Linked DNA regions of Homo sapiens. Changing the gene in region 3 together with the main gene of any one other region gives a genetic interaction. Each region holds a gene or a part of one and is shown on either strand. Other genes may lie near its edges. The genes, in order: UBA6, SLC35E1, GBF1, XPOT, DNAJC3, KDELR2 and MANF.

Region 1 (3,500 bases), on a different chromosome or scaffold from region 3:
TCAGAATCTTTAAGTGCGGCCCTAGTTATTATACCATATTACATCATTACTCTATGTAATTATCTATGAAGCTATGTAGTTATTTACCCCTGTATTAAGTGATTTTAGACTGTTGTTATTTTTTGAGTTACAGCATGTGCTTTCAAAATAGGGAGACTGTATGGTTGAATTAATATTTTTTTAAATAACTGTTAACATGTATAGAGTAGGTTGAAAGTTTGAAAGTATAAAATATACTAAAAGTATACAGACCTGTAATAAGAAATTTATATTACTATAGTCCCATAGCTGCTTTTACTATCCACAGAGAAATGCTTGAAAACGTGAAAGTTGAATAGATGCAATTAAAATCACGGATAGTTTTAGGCTGTTTATATTATCAGATCACCTTCTTTTATCTAGGTTGCCTTGGAGATGATCAAAGTAACTGGTGGCTATCCATTTGAAGCTTACAAAAATTGTTTTCTTAACTTAGCCATTCCAATTGTAGTATTTACAGAGACAACTGAAGTAAGGAAAACTAAAATCAGGTATGTATGAAAGTCTATTTCTCTTGTATAATGAGAATGAAATAAAATATTTTACCTTTTAAAAGGGAAAAATACTAGCTTCACCTCTTTTTTCTTCTATTGTGTATGTGTAAATTTTTGCCATCACTTCAAGATCAGCTCAAACCTCATCTTCATTAAATATTTCTGACTAAAGTAGCCAAAGAACCCTTACAGCACTTTATCTGCCACATTATTTGGCATTATGGTTTCATCTGTGTCTGCCAGATGAATTAGAAGGTACCCTGGTGTCTGACTGTAGGTCATGAGATTTAGAAGAATTCCACAAGCTTGAGACAAAGCAGAACAATTCCTGGGCCTGTACTTTTTAGTTTTCAGATTGGCAACAACCAAAAACTTGAAAAAAAACCTACCTTAACAAGGGTGTGAGAAAGCAGACACTCTCATACATTACTAATGAGAGTACAAAATACTATAATCCACAGTAAGGGATATATAGCACTATATTTCAGATACATTTGCACAAGTCTCAAACTATATATTTGCAAGATAATTATTCTGGCATTATTTATCGTGGCCAATGATTAGAATAACCGAAGTGTCCAGTAATGGGGTACTGGAACATCCACACAGTGAAACCCATTTTAAAAAGAGAGAGACAACACTGTCTTGCTAAAACATACTGATTTATAATACACTGGAAGGATCAGCAAGGTACTGATTAAAAGTGGTTATCTATATGATGTGATGAAGAAATAAGATTATGGAATATTTTAGAAGATATATTATCCTTTATTTCCCCACATTAATTTCTAGCCTGATCACAAATAATGGACTTCTGAAAGTGGGTTTTTTTTGTGTGTGTGTCATCACTAAAAGGAAGAAAATTTCAATGTTTCTGTTCTGAATATTTTTCTGTAACAGAAATGGAATATCATTTACAATTTGGGATCGATGGACCGTACATGGAAAAGAAGATTTCACCCTCTTGGATTTCATAAATGCAGTCAAAGTGAGATACTTTTGTTCATTTAGTTCATTAGTAGCTTTATGTCTGGTTTCTGTTTTGTTTTTATTTATAATTTTATTGGAAGTTATAATTATTTACCATGAATTTGCTTTTTTTACTGGTCATAAAACATTGTTTACGAACAATGTTAAATAAGCATTTTATGTTTGAGCGAGGCTTTCATTGTTTCTTTTTTGGATATTCACTTTTAGGAGAAGTATGGAATTGAGCCAACAATGGTGGTACAGGGAGTCAAAATGCTTTATGTTCCTGTAATGCCTGGTCATGCAAAAAGATTGAAGTTAACGTAAGTATTCAACATTATATGCAGCGATTAACAAGAATTTAAATGTAAGTTGATGCACACTAAAAAATTAAATATAGAGGTTACTATAATTCAGATAAAAGCATTAGTCTTGTCTAATGACATTAATAAAGACAGTGAATCTGCCAGGTGAAGGCCAACAGGCTACCTCTCGAGAGATTCAGCTCTTCAGTTAATAGGTTTAGAAACCTGATTTGGCCAGTACACTTAAGTAAAAGTGGATCCGTCTCTTATGTTGAGACACTTAATGACCAGGCTTATGAGTAATCTAACTGCCAAATCACTATTTTTGTTCATTTATTCAACAAATTATTGTTTAAGGTGCCAGCTGTGTGCCAGGTACTATTCTAGTCATTAGGGAGATAGCAGTTAGCAAACCAAAGTTCTTTCCTACTTAAGGAGTTTGCATAACAATAAGGCAAGTATGTTAGGTGATAGTAAGTATTATGGAGAAATTAAAGAAGAATAAAGAGAAAAGGAAATATGGGGAGTTGGGGGTGTTGAGTTGCTATATTATACTGAGTAGTCTAGGTTTTCCCTTTGCCTATCATAGTCTCACCTGTTAAGGTGGAATTTGAGCAGAGACTGAAAGGAAGAAAGAACCAAAGAAAGCTAAAGTCTTTATCGTGGTCTGCAAGACTCTAAATTTAGATTCCTAGTTATCCTTCTAAGTTCCTTCCTTACTTTCCCTTCACAATATTCCAGCTACACTGGCCTCCTTATTTGTCCTTGAATACTCACTCTAATCATGCTCCAGCATGGGACCTTTGCTTTAGTTGTTCCCTCTGCTTGTAACTCTGAGACAGTGACCTGGCCAAGTCTCACCCCTGGTCTTTGCACTTCCTAAAGAGGCCTCATTTAATACTGCAACCTGTCCTCAGCCCCAGTCTAGTATGTCTAGTCCCCTTTACTCTTCTCTACTTTTTCTTTTTTTCAGAGCACTTATTACTGTCCTATGACTGCTGTGCTGCTGTGTATTTTGCTTATATTTATTGTTTGTTTGTTTTTGAGACGGAGTCTCACTGTGTCGCCTAGGCTGGATTGCAGTGGCGCGATCTCAGCTCACTGCAACCTCTGCCTCCTGAGTTCAAGCGATTCTCCTGCCTCAGCCTCCCGAGTATAGCTGGGATGACAGGCACCCAACACCACACCTGGCTAATTTTTGTATTTTTAGTAGAGACGGATTTCACCATGTTGGCCAGGCTGGTCTTGAACTCCTGACCTAAGGTGATTTCTCCCGCCTCAGCCTCCCAAAGTGCTGGGATTACAGGCGTGAGCCACTGTGCCCGGCCCATGTACTGTATATTAGCTATTTACCTGCTACTAGAACATATATTTCACAAGAGTGGGAATCTTTATTTGATCTTGTCACTGTTGTATCTCAAGCACTTAGATCAATACCTGGCAAATAAAAGGTTACCAACAAATATTTGTCAGACTAGTAAATGAATCTCTGCATGATGGTTGTGTTTAACGTATCTATTGGCTTTAACTATGATAATCAGTTGAGGTTAATCATTCTTAAATTATGATCTAGTCTGAATTATCTGTACCTTAAAAAGTAAAACTACTATTTTATTAGCTAAGGCATTAATTTGCCTTATATTATTTTTCATTAGGATCCCTCAGTATCTTTTGGATCAAGCAAGGCTAGTGT
Region 2 (3,040 bases), on a different chromosome or scaffold from region 3:
AGAGCGAGACTCCATCTCAAAAAAAAAAACAAAACAAAACCAAGTTCCCACTGGTGATGCCTGTCTGACACGTTTTGGTATTTAGTAGGAAATGAAGTGTTTCGAAGCTTCGAGAGAAGCTTCAAAATTGTCACAATTGCTGAAAACAGAATGAATCGTGAACATTATCTCAATATTTTGTATAATAGACAAGACCACAGTGTTTTGGTTCCCTGACCTGTTTTTGTGTTTATGTTAGGATCTGAATCATGTTCTGGGTAAGGGGACGAGGAGCGAACACTGCACTAAGATTTGGTTTGCCAAATCAGATTCTTTGGTCAAGAGTCAGTTTGGGGCCAGGCGTGGTGGCTCATGCCTGTAATCTCAGCACTTTGGGAGGCTGAGGTGGGTGGATCACTGGAGTTTGAGACCACCCTGGCCAACATGGTGAAACCCCATCTCTACTAAAACAAAAATTAGCCAGGCATGGTGGCACCTGCCTGTAATCCCAGCTACTTGGGAGGCTGAGGCAGGAGAATCACTTGAGCCCAGGAGGTGGAGGTTTCAGCGAGCTGAGATCACACCACTGCACTCCAGCCTTGGTGACAGAGTGAGACTCTGTCTCAAAAAAAAAAAAAAAAAAAAGGAATCAGTTTGGGTCTTGGCAGAAATCAACATAAGGAATATGACAAGACCCCAGTAGGTAACCCTGAGTGCTCAGGTCCGAGCTGTGGTCTCTTTTACGGCTTCATGAAAGGACCGTGCCCTCACGGAGGGGACCACGGCTTGGCTTGTGGGGTCTTAGGTGATGGCTGCCTTCTTTCTTCATCACCACACCCAGCTTCTTGCTGGCACTTAGGGGAAGAGAGCAGCAAATGAGAGATTTACCTTTTATCTCCCAGCGAGCGAGATGTTTCCCTGTTCAGAGAGGAAGTAACATCACTTATGCTTGACTGGTGTTTCTTTTGTTGTTGTTTGTTTTTCTTTCAATTGGAATTCTGTATTTAAGATGTTATGTCAGCTGACACATGGGACACTCCTGAAGAGGTGACTGGCCCCCCACCCTGTTTGGCGGTGAGTTTCCGCACCACCGGCCTCAGAAGTGTCCCTCTTGCTTCGTCTCTTGTTCGCTTGCTTTGTAAATACTTTGGTCCCAAGCTGAGACAATTGCTGTGTAAAACGTGAAGAGTCAATCCCAAAGGGTGTTATTTGTCAGAAGAACTTGCCGTGTGCCTTCACCGAAGGCAGTCAAGTCTGCAGTTGGATTTTTCTCACTGGTGAATGACAAGAAACAGGGATAATTTTGCACTGCGGAGATATTACGGGAGTTGTCTATATGATTATATATAGTACCTGATTCTTTGAACATATTATTGAACTCCAAAATGAATTCGACCTCCATTCAGGCTTCCTGAAATCTCTGAAGTTGCTGAAATTTGTATATTATTTTCCTTTTCCAATGCAAGATCTGCTGGTGACGGGAAATGACTGTCTGGTTTTATTATGGTTTATAAATTAATAAATGGGCTATTTAATTCTGTATATAAATTTACAGCAAGTACGTACACTGGAATGAATGAGGCAATCACGTTACACCAAATCAGCAGATCAAAAGACAAACACATATTTCTGAGACTTGAAGGTCCACATCCCCCCGCCCCCTGCCAAGATGGAGTCTTGCTTTGTTGCTCAGGCTGGAGTGCAGTGGCGCAGTCTCAGCTCACTACAACCTCCATCCCCCGGGTTCAGGTGATTCTCGTGCCTCAGCCTCCCGAGTAGCTGGGATTACAGGCATGCACCACCACGGCTGGCTAATTTTTTGTGTTTTTAGTAGAGACAGGGTTTCACCATGTTGGCCAGGCTGGTCTCGAACTCCTGGCCTCAAATGATCCGCCCACCTTGGCCTCCCAAAGTGCTAGGATGACAGGCATGAGCCACCGTGCCCAGCCTGATTGACAATGGCCTCTTGAAGGCTGGGTTTTCCCAGCCGGACAGTGCCCGCCCCACATGCTCCACTCCCACGCTTTCATCTGCAGGCCTGCCTTCCTCTCAGCCACCTCACTGCTGAGCTCTGTGGTAGAGAATTTCCTTTACCCATCAGGGTATGGTCTGGCTGGTAATACTGACTCCAACCCAGCTCCTTCATTTTATAGAAGGAGGCATTTCTGAATCATGTTTGTTCACCATGGCGAGACTCACTGCAGAATTTTTAACCACCTTATTTTAAGTCATTCATTCTAGGAACAGTCAAGCCCCTACCACAAAGGGGCCAGATCCGTTCAAGTGAGGAAGCACTTGCAGTTTCTGAATTTTGCTGTATATTTGTCCTATGTCACCCAACAGGCCCTTTGCTATAGCTGGGACATTACCAGACCCCAATACCTTAGGGTCTCACAGCCTGAAGGACACAGAGCATTGAATTATTAAAAGACCTGAAAATATTATAATGTTTTTCAATTGTCACCTGTTTTCAAGACTTAAATGCTATAGACTTTTCTGCAGGAATGACGTGTATATTCCTCACTGGCATTTACCAAAAATAAATGATGGTTTCCAGGGAATCAAAATTGGTCCCGATTTGTCAGCGAGGGTCTCTTTTTGAGTGGCCCTGTCTTCAGTGTGCCCAGCAACAAAATGTGGAAGGAGGAGAAAGAGCAAGCCAACTTGGCTGTCACGTCTGGATTTACTGCAACCTTTGTTTTTTCTTCTGAGCCAAAAATAAGGACGTGCAATTTGTGAATTGATTAGATGATACAATGAAAATAGGATCACAGCTAAATTAATGACGTGACTTTATTGAACGGAATAACATGGGAAGTCCAGGAACATTGTGGCAGCTGTGCTTATGAAACTTTTTTTTTTTTTTTTGGTATGTTTCATGTTTTTTGAGACAGGATCTCATTCTGTCGCCCAGGCTGGAGTACAGTGGCGCAATCCCGGCTCTCAGCAGCCACAACCTCCCAGACTCAAGGGATCCTTCCGCCTCAGCCTCCCAAGTAGCTGGGATACAGGCATGTGCCACCAAACCTGGCTAATTTTTGTATTTTTTGTAAAGATGGAG
Region 3 (3,500 bases):
ACACGGTGAAACCCCGTCTCTACTAAAAATAGAAAAAATAGCTGTGCATGGTGGCAGGCGCCTGTAGTCCCAGCTACTCGGGAGGCTGAGACAGGAGAATGGCGTGAACCCGGGAGGCAGAGCTTGCAGTGAGCCGAGATTATGCCACTGCACTCCAGCCTGGGCGACAGAGCAAGACTCCATCTCAAAAAAAAAAAAAAGAAAGAAAAGAAAAATAACGAAAGTAAAAATGTATTAAATCTGGCCAGACACTATTGCCCAATCAAAGCCTCTGAGCCTGAGGTTTTCTGTTTTAAAAATGAGATTAACAGCCAGGTACAGTGGCTCACACCTGTAATTCCAGCACTTTGGGAGGCTGAGGCGGGAGGATCACTTGAGGCCAGGAGTTCGAGACCAGCCTGGGAAAAATAGCGAGACCCTGCCTCTACAAAAATAAAAATGCAAAAATTATCTGGGCATGGTGGCACACATTGTAGTCCCAGCTACTGGGGAGGCTGAGTAGCTGAGTAGGTGGGAGGATTTCTTGAGCCTAGGAGATCCAGGAGGCAGTGAGCCATGATGGTGCCATGCACTCCAGTTTTGCACAGAGCAAGACCCTGTCTCAAAAAATAAAATAAGAAATAAAATTAGGCCGGGCATGGTATAATCACACCTGTAATCCTAAAACTTTGGGAGGACTATTGCTTGGGCCCAGGAGCTCAAGATCAGCCTGGGCAACATGGCAAAACCCCATCTCTACAAAAATACAAAAAATTAGCTGGCTGTGGCAGCGCACAGCTGTAGTTCCATCTACTCATAAGGCTGAGGTGGGAGGATCACCTGAGCCCAGGAGTTCGAGGCTGCAGCGAGCCGTGATTGTGCCACTGCACTCCAGCCTGGGTGACAGAGTGAGACCCTGCCTCAAAAAATAAAATTAAATTAACAACATGAGGCTTTCTCTGTCATCAGCAGGTGTGAAATAGAATTGAAAAGAAAGTATCTTTCTCACTGTGAGTAAGGATTGTGAAATACTCAGTCCACACACCTCCTAAGGCTCTCTCTCTCATGAGTAATCTCTGACTTGGAGAGTCCTTTACAAGGACTGGAACAACCAGGAAGTCAAGTCAAGGGAAAGAGTAGCGAGGGGGTGAGGTATGGCATGATTGGTGCTAGGGACACCTTGAGGACTTAGTTAGGGACAGTGAGTGGGGAGGGGGAAAGGGATCCACGAGACCTAACCCCACTCACATCCTGCCCCCTCCTGTGATCCTAGTTGCTAGACCTGATGCACACCCTGCACACGCGGGCAGCCTCTATCTACAGCTCATGGGCGGAGGAGCAACGCCACCTGGAGACAGGTGGCCAGAAGATTGAAGCTGATTCTCGCACCCTCTGGGCCCACTGCTGGTGCCCTTTACTGCAGGGTAAACCAGGAGGGGCAGAGGTAGGGAGTTTGGGGAGCATCAGGATCAAGATGCCTGAAGGATCCTGACCCTGCTCTTGCTCTCAGGTATTGCCTGCCTGTGCTGCGATGCCCGGCGCCAGGTACGGATGCAGGCACTGACCTATCTGCAGCGAGCACTACTTGTACATGATCTGCAAAAGCTAGATGCCCTGGAATGGGAGTCCTGTTTTAACAAGGTGGGACTTCCTACTGGTCTTAAGATAAAGTTCAAATCCTAAGAAAAGGAAAGCCAGGCAGCCTGAAGAGCCCCTAATGTGAGTCTTCAGCCTGCATCATACCTTCCCTTCAGCTCTATGCCCATCCAGTTCCTGGCTTCCTTGGGGCAAGGCTGCCTAGCTGAACCTCATAGGGAGACATTGCACATTTACCCCCACCAGGTGCTGTTTCCTCTACTTACCAAGCTCTTGGAGAACATCAGCCCTGCAGATGTGGGTGGGATGGAGGAGACCCGGATGAGGGCTTCCACATTGCTCTCTAAGGTACTGCTCACCACCCTATACCCACCCTCTCTCCCATACCTGCCTTTTCCCGAGGAGGGAAGCCAGGGCTTCTGGCAGGACCTAGAGATGCACTGTAGGTGCTCACAACCCCCCAGCTATGGACACTAAGCAGGACCTAGGGACCTGAGAGGATTCTGAATCTTAAATCAGAGATTCCTCCATCTCTGATCTAAGATTCTCATGCAAGATAGGACAGGCTTAGCTACCCAGCCTCAGAGAGGGGTCCAGAGGCTCCTACAGTCCCCTCAGCTGAAGGGGGCTGGTGGGCCATAGGTCTTCCTGCAGCACCTGTCTCCACTGCTGTCACTCTCTACCTTTGCGGCCCTCTGGCTCACCATCTTGGACTTCATGGACAAGTACATGCACGCAGGCTCCAGCGACTTACTGGTATGTTCTACCTCAGCTCTGCTGCCTGCCTCCTGTCCCACCTGTTGGAAGGACTTGCCCTTTCCCCCTTGGTAGCTACCTCCCTTTACCATACTCCCCCCATGCCCTCTTTCCTATTCTCATGGTCCCACTGCCACCTGCAGTCAGAGGCGATCCCTGAGTCTCTGAAGAACATGCTTCTGGTGATGGACACAGCGGAGATTTTCCACAGTGCAGATGCACGGGGAGGCGGCCCCTCGGCCCTCTGGGAGATCACCTGGGAACGCATTGACTGTTTTCTCCCTCACCTACGAGATGAACTCTTCAAGCAGACCGTCATCCAGGGTAGGGGGCTCAGCCCAGCTTTATCAAAAAGAGTCTCCTGCCTGGGCACAATGGCTCACACCTCTAATCCCAGCACTTTGAGAGGCCGAGGTGGGTGGATCACCCGAGGGCAGGAATTTGAGACCAGCCTGACCAACATAGTGAAACCCCATGTCTACGAAAAATACAAAAATTAGCCAGGTGTGGCGGTGGGTGCCTGTAGTCCCAGCTACTCAGGAGGCTGAAACAGGAGAATCACTTGAACCCGGGAAGTGGAGGTTGCAGTGAGCCGAGATCACAGCCTGAGTGACAGAACGAGATTCCATCTCAAAAAAAAAAAGTCCCCAAAGCTGAATTTATTGTCTGTGCCCTGGGTGGGTAGAAAGGCTGTTGGGTAGCTAGGGCTCTGCTGGAGAGAGAAAGCACTAAGAGGTGCCATCTCAATTCTCTACCGTCTCCAGACCCCATGCCCATGGAGCCTCAAGGCCAAAAGCCTCTCGCCTCAGCCCACCTGACTTCCGCTGCTGGCGACACTAGGACACCTGGCCATCCACCGCCCCCAGAGATTCCATCTGAGCTGGGGGCCTGTGGTGAGTCTCTCTAGCCTAGCCTGATAGGCACTGAGTAGCAAGCAGGGGGCCTAAGAGGAGGCCCAAGGGGGCGTGGGAATGCTGCTGAGCAGGGTCTGTGAGCCGAGGGAAGAAGGCCACTAGAGAGAACTGTTGCCGCTCTTCCCATGGGAAATGACAGGACCATAAGCTATGAGGAACTAGCTGCTTGCAGTCTTCAGGCTTGGGAAGAGAAGGCTGGGTCAGGGACTTGGAATGAATTTGCAGAGGTTTCCTTTCAGGGATTCTAGTAGAGAG
Region 4 (3,500 bases), on a different chromosome or scaffold from region 3:
TCCTTTCCACTTACCCTATAGTTCCAAATGCCCACGTCTTTAAAAAAAATTAATTATAGGCTCATTCTTTATATTTTTCTATCATTCAGCTATAGTCATGATTATAGTTGTAGGCTACATTATATTTAATTGTTTACATTTATCCAACTATCCCAGCACTTTATAATGGATTCTTGTCATGTAACCATTTTACTTAAGACATAACCTATCATAACTGCTTATTTATGTCTGCCTAGACCAAATAACAAGAAAGTTAAATATCACTAATGTGGCCGGGCAGGGTGACTCATGCCTATAATCCTAGCATTTTAGGAGACTGAGGTGGGCAGATCGCTTGAGCTCAGGAGTTCGAGACCAGCCTGGGCAAGATGGTGAAACCCTATCTCTAGAAAAAAATTAAAATAAAAAAAAAATCATTAAGGTAAGTGTTAAAACAGCTTGTATAGATCAAGCCAAGGAAAGAGAAAATAAAATACACATGTCTGCTGCTATGGAAAGTCTCTTAAACGAATCCTTTGCATTACAATTTTTAAATAATTAGAAATAATGACTGATGTTGCATAAAGATCTGCCTTGAATCATATGAGATTTTAATACTTTTGTTTGGCCAAGTAAACAGAAAATAAATCACAACACTCACTGTTTCTATATTCAAAATATATTCAAATACCTCAAATTTTTTTGTTTCTGTTCATTTCTACCCAAAGTAAACTTTTGCCAGGTGCATTTTTATTCAAGTCCTCTAATGCCAATCTGTGGTGACATGATTAAAAAATGATTCAGCAGAGTAACTTACCCTTTGTCTAAAGTCTGAATCAGCATTTGGATTTAGCCCTAATAGAGCCTGTTCATCCATCCTCGCTGTTATACTTGTAGTTTTCTGGTTGTAATAGGCGTGCCCTCTGATCCCACAGAAGAATTTATAAACATCTGCCACAAAAAACAAAGTTGAAAGAAAACATTACTTGATAAACAAATAGATGCTTATCCTGAATAACGTAAATGGATAAAATCATGCAAAGAAGCTTAAATGTTTAAAAACTTATTTTGGAACTTATCTAAATTACAACTAAAAGTTAGAGCCTAATTCTCAGAAAAATGGGCTCTGCTAACTACTCCACTAATGTGTAATTCCTAAAAATCTGATTTTTTTTTTTGAGACGGAGTCTCACTCTGTTGCCCAGGCTGGAGTGCAGTGGCACCGTATCAGCTCACTGCAAGCTCCGTGTCCCAGGTTCACGCCATTCTCCTGCCTCACCCTCCCGAGTAGCTGGGACTACAGGCGCCCGCCACCGCGCTGGGCTAATTTTTTGTATTTTTAGTAGAGTCAGGGTTTCACCGTGTTAGCCAGGATGGTCTTGATCTCCTGACCTCGTGATCCGCCCGCCTTGGCCTCCCAAAGTGCTGGGATTACAGGCATGAGCCACCCCACCTGGCCCCTAAAAATCTTAAAGTATGCCATAAAGGTCCTCAAGCTTTCTTAGTCTTCAAGATCTTCTTAATAAGGTATAGAAAGTAATCATTTTCTACTTTAAATAGTAGAAGTACCTAATTTATGCAGTGTTTTACTTATCTCTAGTACTTAAAAATGCAATTGTGCAACTGCAGTTAAGTATAAAAATGACAAATGCAGACTATTACAGTAATTATAATAATTTGTCTACTTCCAGATACAAATATCACAAACCTTCTTTAAAACATTAGAATGGCTGACCTCAGAGTTCAATATCCTTTGGAGTGTTTACTAAGTACTATGACAGAAGTCTAATGAAAGGAACAGGATAATGAAAAACCAGTCATTTAGCTTTTGAGCAATGGACTTAGTTTTGCATTTTACAGATCTCTGCTCTTGCCAGCCAATTCTAAAAATTTCAAAAAAAAAAAAGTTTTTCAATAGTAGATACAAAAACCCACAAACCAGCCAGCTACAGTGGCTCACACCGGTAATCTGAGAACTTTGGGAGGCTGAGGTGCGCAGATCACTTAAGGTCAGGAGTTCAAGCCAGCCTGACCAATACGGTGAAACCCTGTTTCTACTAAAAAGACAAAAATCAGCCAGGCTTGGTGGCACATGCCAGTAATCCCAGCTACTCGGGTGACTGAGGCACAAGAATCGCTTGAACCCAGGAGGCAGAGGTTGTAGTGAGCCAAGATTGCGCCACTGCACTCCAGCCTGGAGAACAGAGTGAGATTCCATCTCAAAAAAAACAAAACACACAAAAAAAAATCCACAAATGACTTAACACTGACTACTCTTATTTAAGGATTTTTTTTAATCTCTGAGAGGTAATCCACTTCTTCACAATATAGGTTCCAACATTCTCAAATAATAAGCTGCAAAAGGCATCCTAGTTTTTGATAGAATGCATATTCATTTGAGCAAACATGGAACAAACTCTAAATGATGTGAAAAATGATATTATTCTCTCAAGACCTATAAGGTAGGGAGACCAAGTCTTACTACTTCCATTAAACGCTGTGGGGGGCCAGGCGTGCTGGCTCATGCCTGTAATCCCAGCACTTTGGGAGGCCGAGGCAGGTGGATCACTTGAGGTCAGGAGTTCAAGACCAGCCTGGCCAACATGGTAAAATCCCCTACTAAAAATACAAAAAAATTAGTGGAGCATGGTGGCACACACCTGTAATCCCAGCTACTTGGGAGGCTGAGGCAGGAGAATCGCTTGAACCCAGGAGGTGGAGGTTGCAGTGAGCTGGGATCACGCCACTGCACTCCAGCCTGGGTGACAGAACGAGACTCTGTCTCAAAAAAAACAAAAAAAGGCTGTGGGGCTTTTTGTTTCAATTACCGTTAACCAAAGACGCCAAAAAACTAATTGGATTGGGGGTAGGGGAGAAAAGCCTTTTGGGAATAGCAGGGGTAGGGGAGAAAGGCCTTTTGGGAATAGCAAAACCAGGCTCAGGTCCAGGTTACAGGATACCTACAATAGGCTTTTCTGTTTTCCTCTGAGCCTGCCTGAATCAAATAACTCAGGATATGGACTGAGAGCTTTGAAGACAGCTCAGCCCTTTCTCTTATGGTTCATAACGTACTTGCAGACTTCAAGGCAGTGTAACTCCCTACTGCCCTCAGATTACGATCCAAACACTTTTGAATAACTCCTCACTATTCTGCACACCAGGTCAGCAAGGCCAGTGCTAGTGAACCATATGGCAGTTCTCCAGTGGTATTCTACCTTTCATCTTTGCACACTGCTCTTTCTTCTTGTTAGTAGGTTAACCCCTGCTGTCCTTTGAAATTCAACTTAGAAGCCATCTCTTTCAAGAACACTTCTTTGACCTCTATTGTCCAACTCTCCCAAATTGGATTACATGCCCCATCCTAAGCACTGCTATGCTGTCACTGCCAGCTTACTAGTTTTCTCTCATTAATCTTTTTTTTTTTTTTTTGAGACAGTCTCACTCTGTTGCCCAGGGTGGAGTGCAGTGACATGATCTCGGCTCACTGCAGCCTCTGGCTCCTGGGTTCAAGTGATTCTTCT
Region 5 (3,500 bases), on a different chromosome or scaffold from region 3:
AGTTCCGGCTGGGCACTGTGGCTCACGCCTGTAATCCCAGCACTTTGGGAGGCCGAGGTGGATGGATCACGAGGTCAGGAGTTCAAGATCAGCCTGGGCAAGATGGTGAAACCCCGTCTCTACTAAAAATACAAAAAAAAAAAAACTTAGCCTGTTGTGGAGGTGGGCGCCTGAAATCCCAGCTACTTGGGAGGCTGAGGCAGAGAATTGCTTAAACCTGGGAGGCAGAGGATGAAGTGAGCCGAGATTGCACCACTGCACTCCAGCCTGGGTGACAGAGCAAAACTCCATCTCAAAAAAAAAAAAAAAAAAATTACCCAGTTCCGGGTATTTCTTTATAGCAATGTGAGAATGGACTAATACAGAAAATTGGTACTGGGAGTGGGGCATTGCTATAAAGATACCTGAAATTGTAGAAGGAAGCAACTTTGGAATGGGGTAATGGGCAGAGGTTGGGACAGTTTGGAGGACTCAGAGGAAGACAGGAAGAGGAACGAAAGTTTGAAACCTCCTAGAGACTTGTTGAATGGTTGTGACCAAAATGCTGATAGTGGTATAGACAGTGAAGTTCAGGCTGAGGAGGGCTCAGAATGACCGCAGATGAGGAACTTATTGGGAACTGGAGTAAAGGCCACTCTTGCTATGCTTTAGTAAAGAGACTGGTGGCATTGTACCCCTGGTCTATGGATCTGTGGAACTTTGAACTTGAGAGAGGTGATTTAGGGTATCTGGTGGAAGAAACTTCTAAGCAGCAAAGTGTTCAAGATGTGACCTGGCCTCTAGCAGCCAGTGCTCATATTCATGAACAAAGAAATGATGTAAAATTGGAACTTACATTTAAAAGGGAAACAGAGCAGAAGAGTTGGAAAATTTTCAGTCTGACCATGTGGTAGAAAAGAAAAACCCATTTATAGGGGAGTAATTCAAGCAGACTGCATGAATTTGCATAAGTAAAGAGGAGCCAAGTGCTGATAGCCAAGACAATGGGAAAAAGGGCTCCAAGGCATCTCAGCGACCTTTAAGGCAGCTCCTTCTATCATAGGCCCAGAGACCTAGGAGGGAAGAACAGTTTCCTGGGCCAGGGCCCTGCCAGCCTCAGGACACTGCTGCCTGCATCCTAGTTACTCCAGCTCCAGCCATGGCTGAAAGGGGCCCAGATATAGCTCAGGCCTTCAGACGGTGCCAGCCCAAACCCTTGGAAGATTCCACATGCTGTTAAGCCTGCAGGTGCTGAAAGCCAAGAATTGAGGCTTGGGAGCCTCAGCCTAGATTTCAGATATATGGAAAAGCCTGGATGTTCAGGCAGAAGGTTGCTGCAGGGGCAGAGCCCTCATGGAAAAATCTCTACTAGGGCAGTGCAGAGGGGAAATGTGGGGTTGGAGCCCCCAACAGAGTCCCCACTGGGGCACTGCCTAGTGGAGCTGTGAGAAAGACCACCATCTTTCAGACCCCAGAATGGTAGATCCGCTGACAGCTTGCACCATGCACCTGGAAAAGCTGCAGCCACTCATTGCCAGCCCTTGACAGCAGCCGCGTGGGCTGAGCCCTGCAAAGTCACAGGAGTGGCACTGCCCAAGGCCTTGGGAGCTCACCCCTTGCTGCAATATGCCCTGGATGTGAGACATGGAGTCAAAGGAGATTATTTTGGAGCTTTAAGATTTAATAACTGCCCTGCTGGGTTTTAGCACGTGCATGGGGCCCGTAGCCTTTTTCTTTTGGCCGGTTTTACCCTTTTGGAATGGGACTATTTACCCAATGCCTATAATCCCATTGTATCTTGGAAGTAATTAACTTGTTTTTGATTTTATAGGCTTATAGGTGGAAGGGACTTGGCTTGTCCCAGATGAGACTTTGGACTTTTGAGTTAATGCTGGAATGAGTTAAGACTTTGGGGGCTGTTGAGAAGGGATGATTGTATTTTGTAATGTGAGAACATGATATTTTGGAGGAGCTGGGGCGGAATGATATGGTTTGGATCTGTGCCCCACCCAAATCTTATGTTGAATTGTAATCCCTAATGTTGGAGTTGGGGCTTGGTGGTAGGTTTTTTGTTTTTTTTTAGAAATCTCCATATTGTTTTCCATAGTGGTTGAACTAATTTACATTGCTGCCACCCATATATGTGTTACAATTTCTTCACCTCCATGCTAACATCTATTTTTTTTTAAGCTTTTTAGTAATAGCCACTCAGACTTGTGTAAGATGATTGATATTTCATTGTGGTTTTAATTTGCATTTCTCTGATGATTAGTGATGAACATTTTTTCATGTTTGTTGGCTGCTTGTATGTCTTCTTTTGAGAAATGTCTCTTAATGTCCTTTGCCCACTTTTTTTTTTTTTGAGACAGAGTCTTGCTCTGTCGCCCAGGCTGGAATGCAGTGGCACGATCTTGGCTCACTGCAAGCTCCGCCTCCCAGGTTCACGCCATTCTCCTGCCTCAGCCTCCTAAGCAGCTGGGACTACAGGTGCCTGCCACCATGCCCGGCTAATTTTTTGTATTTTTAGTAGAGACAGGGTTTCACTGTGCTAGCCAGAATGGTCTTGATCTCCCGACCTTGTGAGCCACCCGCCTTGGCCTCCCAAAGTGCTGGGATTACAGGCGTGAGCCAGTGCGCCTGGCCCTTTGCCCACTTTTTAATGGGGTTCTTTGTTTTCTTCTTGTTGAGTTGTTTGAGTGTCTTGTAGATTCTGGATATTAGTCCTTTGTCGGAGGCATAATTTGCAAATGTTTTCTCTCATTCTGTAGTTTGTCTCTTTGCCCTGTTGATTATCTTTTGATGTGCAGAAGCTTTTTAGTTAAGTCCCATTTGTTTATTTTTGGTTTTGTTGCATTTGTGTTTGGGGTCTTCGTCATAAGTTGTTTGCCTAGGCCAATGTCCAAAATGTTTAATCTATCTTGAGGTAGTTTTTGTATATGCTGGGAGACAGAGATCCAGTTTCTTCTGCATATGGCTAGCCAATTTTCCCAGCACCATTTATTGAATTAGGGTGTCCTTTCCCTGTTGTTTATATTTGTCAGCTTTGTCAAAGATCAATCTGTTGGATGTAAGTATGTGGTTTTATTTCTGGGGTTCTCTATTGTAGTCCATTGATCTGTGTGCGTATTTTTGTACCAGTACCATGCCATTTTAGTTACTATAGCCTTGTAGTATAATTTGAAGTCAAGTAATGTGATGCCTCTGGATTTGTTCTTTTTGGTTAGGATTACTTTGGCTATTCATGCCCTTTTTTGGTGCTGTATGGACTTTAGAATTGTTTTTCCTAGTTCTCTGAAAAATGACATTGGTGATTTGATAGGAATTGTGTTGAATCTACAGATTACTATGGGCAGTATGGTTATTTTAATGATAGTCTCCAAATCCATGAGCCTGGGATGTTTTTGTGTTTATTTATGACATATATGATTTGTTTCATAAGTGTTTTGTAGTTCTCATGGAGATCTTTCACCTCCTTGGTCAGTGTTTTCCTAGGTATTTTATTTTTTTGCATATGGCTTTTG
Region 6 (3,500 bases), on a different chromosome or scaffold from region 3:
GAAATACATTCCTGTGGATGGCATACCATACCTTCATAGATGTGTTATACAATGAAATAAATGAAGTAAAAAGATCCAGGTAACGAGTTGTGAAGACCAGTGCAAACAGAAGCTGGCTTTTCCCAGAAATACCTAGAGAAACAGAAGGGAAGTATTAGAAGGGCCTGAAGAGCTTTGGGATTCCTGTGGATCACACTGTGCAGGGAGTGCAGACAGGGAAGGAGGGGTGCGTGGGGTCAAGGCCCAGGTCTAGGGATGGCTCTGAATGAACAAGAGCAGTTGTAGTTTTTCTATCCCTTCCCATTCCCAAACATGCTCCTTTTGGGAGGCTCTAACAGGCTTTTCTGTCTCACTATAAAGGGCGACCACAGGAAAGGGGCTTTATTATGCCAGGATGTGTATCATTCAAACGAACCTTTTACTTCTCAAATATATCACCTTAAGTAGGAACAAATTTCTCAATAATTCTGCTGTCATTTAGTGTTATAACTTGTCTCTTACATTCAGATTTTTCTTTTTTGTTTTCCCCTGAGACAGGGTCTCCCTCTGCTGCCCAGGCTGGAGTGCAGAGGCACGATCAAGCTCACTGTAGCCTTGACCTCCTGGGCTTCAGCAATCTTCCCACCTCGGCCTCCAGAGTAGGTGGGACTAGAGGTGTGAACTACCACACCCAGCTAATTTTTAAACAAATTTTTTGTTCACCATGTTGCCCACACTGGTCTTGAACTCCTGGGCCCAGCTTCCCAAAGCGTTGGCATTACAGGTATGAGCCATGTCGCCTGGTCCCTTCTTTGTATGGTAAAACAGTATCTCCATGGTGAGAAATCTTTTGAGAACGGAGATGGAGTCTACTGTCATTAAGGGGGATGAGGAGTAGATGAGAAGCACCGACTCAGGTAAGAGTTGGGCAGGAACTCCCGCTGGAATAATGGCATCGCATCCCATGGTGACTTCTTTGCTAAGAGCGGCAATTACTTGGATATGTTAAGATTTTTAAAGCTTCCCTCTCAGTTAGGCATAGTGGTCATGCCTATAATCTCCACATATAGGGGGGCTAAGGCGGGAGAATCGCTTGAGCCCAGGAGTTTGAGACCAGACTCCATCTCTACGAAAAATAGAAAAGTGATAGCCAGGCAAGGTGGCACACACCTGTGGTCCCAGCTACATGGGAGGTTGAGGTGGGAGGATTGCGTGACTCCAGGAGGCTGAGGCTGAGTGAGCTGTGGTCACATCCCTGCACTCTAGCCTGGGTGACAGAGCAAGACCCTGTCTCAAAAAATAAATTAATTACAATAAAATAGAAATTCCATTGTATTTGTATAAAAATGTTCCTGAATGCTAGGACAACATGAAGGTATGAACCCACAACTACAGCTGGTCTTCAAAAGCAGCTGTCTTTTTTAAAGCCTTGAAACTGTGTTTCCACTTCCAACCACCAACCCACCTCCAGAGCACTGCATGGCACAGCCACACTCAGCCAGGAAGGCTGGACATTTATGTGGTGTGCACACAGCTTTTCTGACATCTATATTTGGCCAAATATTTATGTGACAAAGGACGCAAACTATGGGTTTCAGATGCTGGAGACTGAGCAAATGCATTAAAGAAACTGAAGGCTGACTAAATGTCAGAACCCACCCACCCTCATCTATAATGCATACTTCACACCACTACACATTTTAGTAAGTATGAATTTAACAGAAAAGTCACTTCACCCAAATCATTCACAACACTCCTCTGGAACGTGAAAAGCACATTATTTTTCTTTTCTTTTTTTGAGACTGGGTCTCACTCTGTTGCCCAGGCTGGAGTGCGGTGGCACAAGTACAGCCCACTGCACCTTTGACCTCCCTGGGCTGAGGTGATCCTCCCACCTCAGCCTCCTGAGTAGCTGGGACTACAGGTGGGTGCACCACCACACCTGGCTAATATTTGTATTACATGTTGTTTTTCAATATTTTATGAACAATCATTTTGCAGCTTGCTGAAACTGAAAACCTGAATGTAAGAATGTTACTTTCTCAGATGAATAACTGTAGTCTCAGCCTATTCACATACACATCTAAATAGAAATGGAAAAAAATGTTGATGCCACCCTTCCAGATCCATCAATAGAAACCAAAGGGCCAAAGGAGGAGACACGGACAGTGAATCTGCTCTTAGTCTTTTCCCCGTAACGGATAACTGATTTCTTCCTACAGAGACCAATGTTCCAAAGGGGAAATGACAAGGCTGCTGCTAACCAAGAAACCGGGAGGTTTCAGAGGGGGAAGAAGAAAGAACAGGGAGCAGTCAGACCATACCTGGTGTTTGTTGAAGCCTTGAGAAATCAATTTCCAGCTTATTTCCTATATGGTTCTTTCCAATATTTTAAATATAAACATACAGGATACAAGTAGGTGAATTTTGTGGGAAAGGGTTTTACTCTAACAGAACTTTGGAAGCCAGGCAGATTTGAAATTGTGTCCTCATTCCCAGCATTCCTATACTGAAAACCAGGGACCATCATATTGTCTTTACCAGCCCCCGTGGGGACCCAGCTCATATCCCACCTCCTCTGGGATGTCATCTCTGAAGATACCCTCCCTCAGGACTGTTGATTCATTCAGCAAGCACATAAGGGGAACTGCTTCATGCCAGCTGCTGCCCTAGCTCCAATTACAGTACTTATAAAAATACACTGTGATGATGTGGTTCCTGCCTCTCCTCTCCCCAAAAACCTCACTCAGTACCAAGATCTTTAAAGGCTGGGGTCATGCCTTATTCCATCTTGTATTCCCTGCATGGGACACTGGGCCCTGACACACAGCAGGACTCAGAAAATATTTGCTGAATGAATAAATGGACAAAAGAAAATGGGATTCATTTTATCTTCATGTCATGGGGTCAAATTCTCATTTTGTGGTATTTTGGGAGAACACTTCTGAAGAATGTCCAGGTCATACTGTGTCTCTGTGACTGTAAATAGGGCTCTGCCCTAATTAACTACTAGCTAGAGGGTGAGAGAGCCCCAGGTGCGCACAGGGCAGTGTGTGGTTTGAAGCCGGTCCATGGAGTAGCGTCCACGCAGGACAGCCTTGCTGGAAATCTGCGGATGCTAACGTGGTCCCACACTGTTCTTCCCCAGCCTGAGATCCTGATTAGGAAGTAGCAGCTTCTTCCTTTAAAACAACAAAACTGTCCTGTCTTCATAGGAAAATGGGAATCCTAGCTGAAGACAGAAGGGGGTGGGGCAAGAATCTCCTGGAGGGGTTGGGAGTAGAATACCTGCTATTAAACCAGAGCAGCTCCTAGTCGGCTTCTCTCCACTTTGAGATCAAAGCATGCTAAGGTTACCAGGTAATAAGATCTCCCAGAATACTCACTTTTGTAAATGTTTCTGAAACTGATATCCCCTTACCAAATACACCAAACATCTATATTAAGGAGTACAACTTGTTAAATGGAAATCAGTCATTAAACAACATCATTCTTGTCTTATCCTACTGGGCCAGGTTAAA
Region 7 (4,007 bases), on a different chromosome or scaffold from region 3:
ATCCAACAAGTAATGTGAATTTTAGATGTAAATATCTGCCACTTGATTTTTTTTCCCCCTTTCCCCACTTCCTTGACTGCTGTGATGTGAATTAAAGATAAATACGTGATACTGATCCACTGAATTCACTGAATGGGAGCAGAGGATGTGCCCCTCTCCAACCCTTGTCGCCGGGCTCCAAGCCCTTTTTAGCCCTATAGACATGTCCTTTTTGCACTGAGTAGAGCCAACGGTTCCCGCATCCTGCCTTGAAGGCAGGCAGCCAGGAGGGCACTTGAAAGGAGGGCAGTCGAAAAGGAAACATCCTCCAGTGCTTCTCTGGTGATTCCCGGGACCCCACTCAGGAGGTCCCACGGCAGCGGGGGACCCCGAGGGCCTAGCCGGGGAGGCAGGAGGAGGCTGGCCAGCCACCAAGCCACGATTCAGAGCTTGTAAGGGCACCTCCCGAGCCCCTCACCTTCCCACTCTGAGGCGACCCCATGTCCTCGACCGATGATCTGGCCCGGGCGCTTCCCTCCACGGTCTAGAGTGGCGGCCCAGCTTTGAGCTTGGCGCGCCTTGAGCCCTTCCTTCAGATGTCCCGCAGTCCGTCCACCCCGCACGTCTCCTATCAGCCTATGCACGGCGGGCTCCGGTCAGGTGGAGGATCAGCAGGTGGGCTTTCAAAGGTTGGATCCGTTGCCCACGCGAATGAAAGAAGAAAAAAGAAACCTCTTTGAGCCTTGCCTGCGGCCGCCCGCCCTTCCTGCCTAACCTGTTGTCTTGGCTGACCCCAGAACTCCTGCACCACGAGTCGGAGTCCGGGCGAGGAGATCAGCAGGGGTTTTCGAGGGAGCCTGGGGCCCAGGGCAGGGGTACGCGGGTCAACTCAACAGATGTAAGGCGTGGCCGAACCCCATTCAGCTAGCAGTACCCAGCCTCAGCCACAGTCGCTGCCCTTACCCAAGATGGCGGCCCACACCGCTTCCGTCGCTGCTGTAGTCGCTTCCTGCGGCCAGCCCGGGTTCAATCAGCGGCCGACAACTGTCTAGGGCTCAGACACCACCAGCCAATGAGGGAGGGCAGCGTGGAGCCGCCCGTCTGGGCTCGCGGCTCCTGGACCAATGGGGAAGTGGCATGTGGGAGGGCGCCGGGGGGCCCCCCGCCAATGGGGAGCTACGGCGCGCGGCCGGGACTTGGAGGCGGTGCGGCGCGGCGGGTGCGGTTCAGTCGGTCGGCGGCGGCAGCGGAGGAGGAGGAGGAGGAGGAGGATGAGGAGGATGAGGAGGATGTGGGCCACGCAGGGGCTGGCGGTGGCGCTGGCTCTGAGCGTGCTGCCGGGCAGCCGGGCGCTGCGGCCGGGCGACTGCGAAGGTGCGGGATAGGGGGCCGGGGGCCGCGCTCCGTGACCGTTCTGGCGGCGGCGCTGAACCCCACAACATCACCAGACGGCCGGGGCCAAGAGGGCGAGGGCGGGGGCGGGGGCGGGGGCGACAGCAGGTCCCCGCGGGGCCTGCATGAGGAGGCTCCGGCGCCCGCCCTAGTAAATCTTTCTTGGGCCTAGAAAACATTGGTCCGACGAAGAAAAGTTGAGACTAGATCCCGTTGAAAACTTGTCCTGAAATCTCCATCACTCCTGAGTTATTGTCCCCACCACCATCTAGAGGTTACCGCTCCCCGTTCGGCGTCGGGAGCTCCAGGGCTGGCCGTGGGTGCTGCGCCCTGTCTGTTGGGATCACGAAGCTGCACCTCTGGGTCCGCTGTTGTATTTGGAAATTAGCAGCAGCATTTTGATCATTTTTCTCTTCACCTTCCAGTCTCTCCATTTATGAGGTCACAGTGAGTCCCGTCTCAAGGACACGTGTTCACCATGGGCTTAAACTTGATGAAAGGAGCAGGGAGAAGTCGTTTATAGGTCATTGGGTGATGCTTGGTCCTTTGATGCCCTGGGTGTACCAGGGGACCCCCGCCACTTGGAACCGGGTTCTGTCTACCTGTAGACACCTGAGAAAAATCGGTGATGGAAAAGCTCACCTCTAATGATTCATCTCCGTGTCTCCTATTAAAATTGCTGGCGGAGTTCTTTTCTGGTGGATTGGAACAGCTTGGTGATTGCTGAGCATCTCCCGTCCCTCTCTTTTCCAGTTTGTATTTCTTATCTGGGAAGATTTTACCAGGACCTCAAAGACAGAGATGTCACATTCTCACCAGCCACTATTGAAAACGAACTTATAAAGTTCTGCCGGGAAGCAAGAGGCAAAGAGAATCGGTTGGTAAGTAGCTGGTGATCCTCCCCAACTGGCCCTGGCTCATGTTAACCCTCGGCTTCACCAGCCGTTTGATAAAAGGCCTTGCCCACCTCTCTGTTCAGGAAGCCAGCTACTCTCTCCATAAACTAATGTGAGAAGACTGAAGTGCTTCTATGTCCTTCCCAAAGCAGCATGTGTTCTGCAACTGTGATTTTTTTTTATCCTGTTAGTCTTTATTAAGCACCTACTATGTGCTAGGCACTGGGAATATCAGGGGAAAGAAGTGACAGTCGGACACACAAATAATGCAATGTCTGGGTGTCATGAAGAAAATGGACCAGCAGGTGCTGATTTAGAGTGGCCAAGAAGTCTCTGAGGAAGGGTTATCATTGAAGTGGGGTAAGACCATCCCATACAGGGAACAGCAGTGTGAGTGCCCAGAGGCCTGAAAGAGTGTGGCATGTATGTGGACAGGAGAAGGTGACAGGGTGCCTACAGGATAGGCAAGGGCCGAATCCAAGACAAAAGCCCTAGTGAAGCAATGGGTTTTCTAACTTGAATTTCTCTGACAGTCTCTGGCTTTTCTCTCTGTTAAAGGTTTGAACCCTGGTGACACTTAAATTCATTTGGTGGCTGTCAGCTTGGACTGAGCATGTGTTAAGAGTCCAGGGTTTACACTGGCTGAATCTGACTACCAGTACAGGCAGGGCACCGAAAAATGCCGCTGTGGGCCAGGTGCGGTGGCTCATGCCTGTCTTCCTAGCACTTTGGGAGGCCAAGGTGGGAGGATTGCTTGAACTTAGGAGTTTGAGATCAGCCTGGGCAAAGTGGTGAAATCCTGTCTGCACAAAAAAATTTTTAGGCTAGGCGTGGTGGCTCACACCTGTAATCTCAGCACTTTGGGAGACCGAGGTGGGTGGATCACCTGAGGTCAGGAGTTCAAGACCAGCCTGGCCAACATGGCAAAACTCTATCTCTACTAAAAAATACAAAAATTAGCCAGGCATGGTGACAGGCGCCTGTAATCCCAGCTGCTCAGGAGGCTGAGGCAGGGAGAATTGCTTGAACCTGGGAGGCGGAGGTTGCAGTGAGCCGAGCCAAGATTGCGCCACTGCACTCCAGCCTGGGTGACAGAGCAAAACTTTATCTCAAAAAAAAAAAAAAATTGTTTTAGTTAGCTGGGTGTGGTGGCCCACACCGGTAGACCCAGCTACTAGGGTGGCTGAGAGGGGAGGATCACCACCCAACAGATTGAAGCTGCAGGGAGCCGTGATCATGCCACTGCATTCCAGCCTGGGTGACAGGGAGCCCTATCTCAAAACACAAGTAAGGCCCTACAGAGAGATGATGTTTCAAGGTGTCAGTATGTTTGGAGGAGATGGCTCTCAAGCACCTCCTGAAGGCCATTGTCCTTTATTGCTCCAGTGCTACTATATCGGGGCCACAGATGATGCAGCCACCAAAATCATCAATGAGGTATCAAAGCCTCTGGCCCACCACATCCCTGTGGAGAAGATCTGTGAGAAGCTTAAGAAGAAGGACAGCCAGATATGTGAGCTTAAGTATGGTGAGTATGCCTAGTCCTTTCTTAATGAATGCTGTGCACCTTCTGGGTTTGTTTCCCATCTGGGAGAGGAAAATGATGAGCTAGAGTCATGAGTGGGTTGTATTGTATGACAGATGGTGCTAAATGCTGGAGGGCTCTGGCATGGAAGTGGGTGGAGGTCAGAATAGGCCTTATTGAAGAAGTGATATTTCAGCAAACTTTGAAGGAGGTGA

What was found.
Region 1: changes in GBF1 (region 3) and UBA6 together harm fitness more than expected from each alone (negative genetic interaction), as found in Homo sapiens cells (one study listed by BioGRID).
Region 2: changes in GBF1 (region 3) and SLC35E1 together harm fitness more than expected from each alone (negative genetic interaction), as found in Homo sapiens cells (one study listed by BioGRID).
Region 4: changes in GBF1 (region 3) and XPOT together harm fitness more than expected from each alone (negative genetic interaction), as found in Homo sapiens cells (one study listed by BioGRID).
Region 5: changes in GBF1 (region 3) and DNAJC3 together harm fitness more than expected from each alone (negative genetic interaction), as found in Homo sapiens cells (one study listed by BioGRID).
Region 6: changes in GBF1 (region 3) and KDELR2 together harm fitness less than expected from each alone (positive genetic interaction), as found in Homo sapiens cells (one study listed by BioGRID).
Region 7: changes in GBF1 (region 3) and MANF together harm fitness more than expected from each alone (negative genetic interaction), as found in Homo sapiens cells (one study listed by BioGRID).

The regions. Positions count from the first base shown.
Region 1 is NC_000004.12:67,621,156-67,624,655, reverse strand, and holds part of UBA6 (ubiquitin-like modifier-activating enzyme 6), read left to right. Parts: intron 1-402; coding exon 403-530; intron 531-1,433; coding exon 1,434-1,521; intron 1,522-1,730; coding exon 1,731-1,825; intron 1,826-3,500. UniProt on the Homo sapiens protein: Activates ubiquitin by first adenylating its C-terminal glycine residue with ATP, and thereafter linking this residue to the side chain of a cysteine residue in E1, yielding a ubiquitin-E1 thioester and free AMP.
Region 2 is NC_000019.10:16,549,337-16,552,376, reverse strand, and holds the end of SLC35E1 (solute carrier family 35 member E1), read left to right. Parts: 3' UTR 1-2,540; downstream 2,541-3,040. UniProt on the Homo sapiens protein: Putative transporter.
Region 3 is NC_000010.11:102,378,032-102,381,531, forward strand, and holds part of GBF1 (Golgi-specific brefeldin A-resistance guanine nucleotide exchange factor 1), read left to right. Parts: intron 1-1,252; coding exon 1,253-1,403; intron 1,404-1,489; coding exon 1,490-1,620; coding exon of another isoform or gene 1,621-1,662; exon of another isoform or gene 1,663-1,698; intron 1,699-1,821; coding exon 1,822-1,923; intron 1,924-2,217; coding exon 2,218-2,331; intron 2,332-2,474; coding exon 2,475-2,655; intron 2,656-3,095; coding exon 3,096-3,224; intron 3,225-3,500. UniProt on the Homo sapiens protein: Guanine-nucleotide exchange factor (GEF) for members of the Arf family of small GTPases involved in trafficking in the early secretory pathway; its GEF activity initiates the coating of nascent vesicles via the localized generation of activated ARFs through replacement of GDP with GTP.
Region 4 is NC_000012.12:64,407,392-64,410,891, reverse strand, and holds part of XPOT (exportin-T), read right to left. Parts: intron 931-3,500; 5' UTR 857-930; coding exon 797-856; intron 1-796. UniProt on the Homo sapiens protein: Mediates the nuclear export of aminoacylated tRNAs. In the nucleus binds to tRNA and to the GTPase Ran in its active GTP-bound form. Docking of this trimeric complex to the nuclear pore complex (NPC) is mediated through binding to nucleoporins.
Region 5 is NC_000013.11:95,683,639-95,687,138, forward strand, and holds part of DNAJC3 (dnaJ homolog subfamily C member 3 precursor), read left to right. Parts: intron 1-3,500. UniProt on the Homo sapiens protein: Involved in the unfolded protein response (UPR) during endoplasmic reticulum (ER) stress.
Region 6 is NC_000007.14:6,474,153-6,477,652, forward strand, and holds part of KDELR2 (ER lumen protein-retaining receptor 2), read right to left. Parts: intron 133-3,500; coding exon 32-132; intron 1-31. UniProt on the Homo sapiens protein: Membrane receptor that binds the K-D-E-L sequence motif in the C-terminal part of endoplasmic reticulum resident proteins and maintains their localization in that compartment by participating to their vesicle-mediated recycling back from the Golgi.
Region 7 is NC_000003.12:51,384,084-51,388,090, forward strand, and holds the start of MANF (mesencephalic astrocyte-derived neurotrophic factor precursor), read left to right. Parts: upstream 1-1,207; 5' UTR 1,208-1,259; coding exon 1,260-1,353; intron 1,354-2,124; coding exon 2,125-2,252; intron 2,253-3,653; coding exon 3,654-3,795; intron 3,796-4,007. UniProt on the Homo sapiens protein: Selectively promotes the survival of dopaminergic neurons of the ventral mid-brain. Modulates GABAergic transmission to the dopaminergic neurons of the substantia nigra.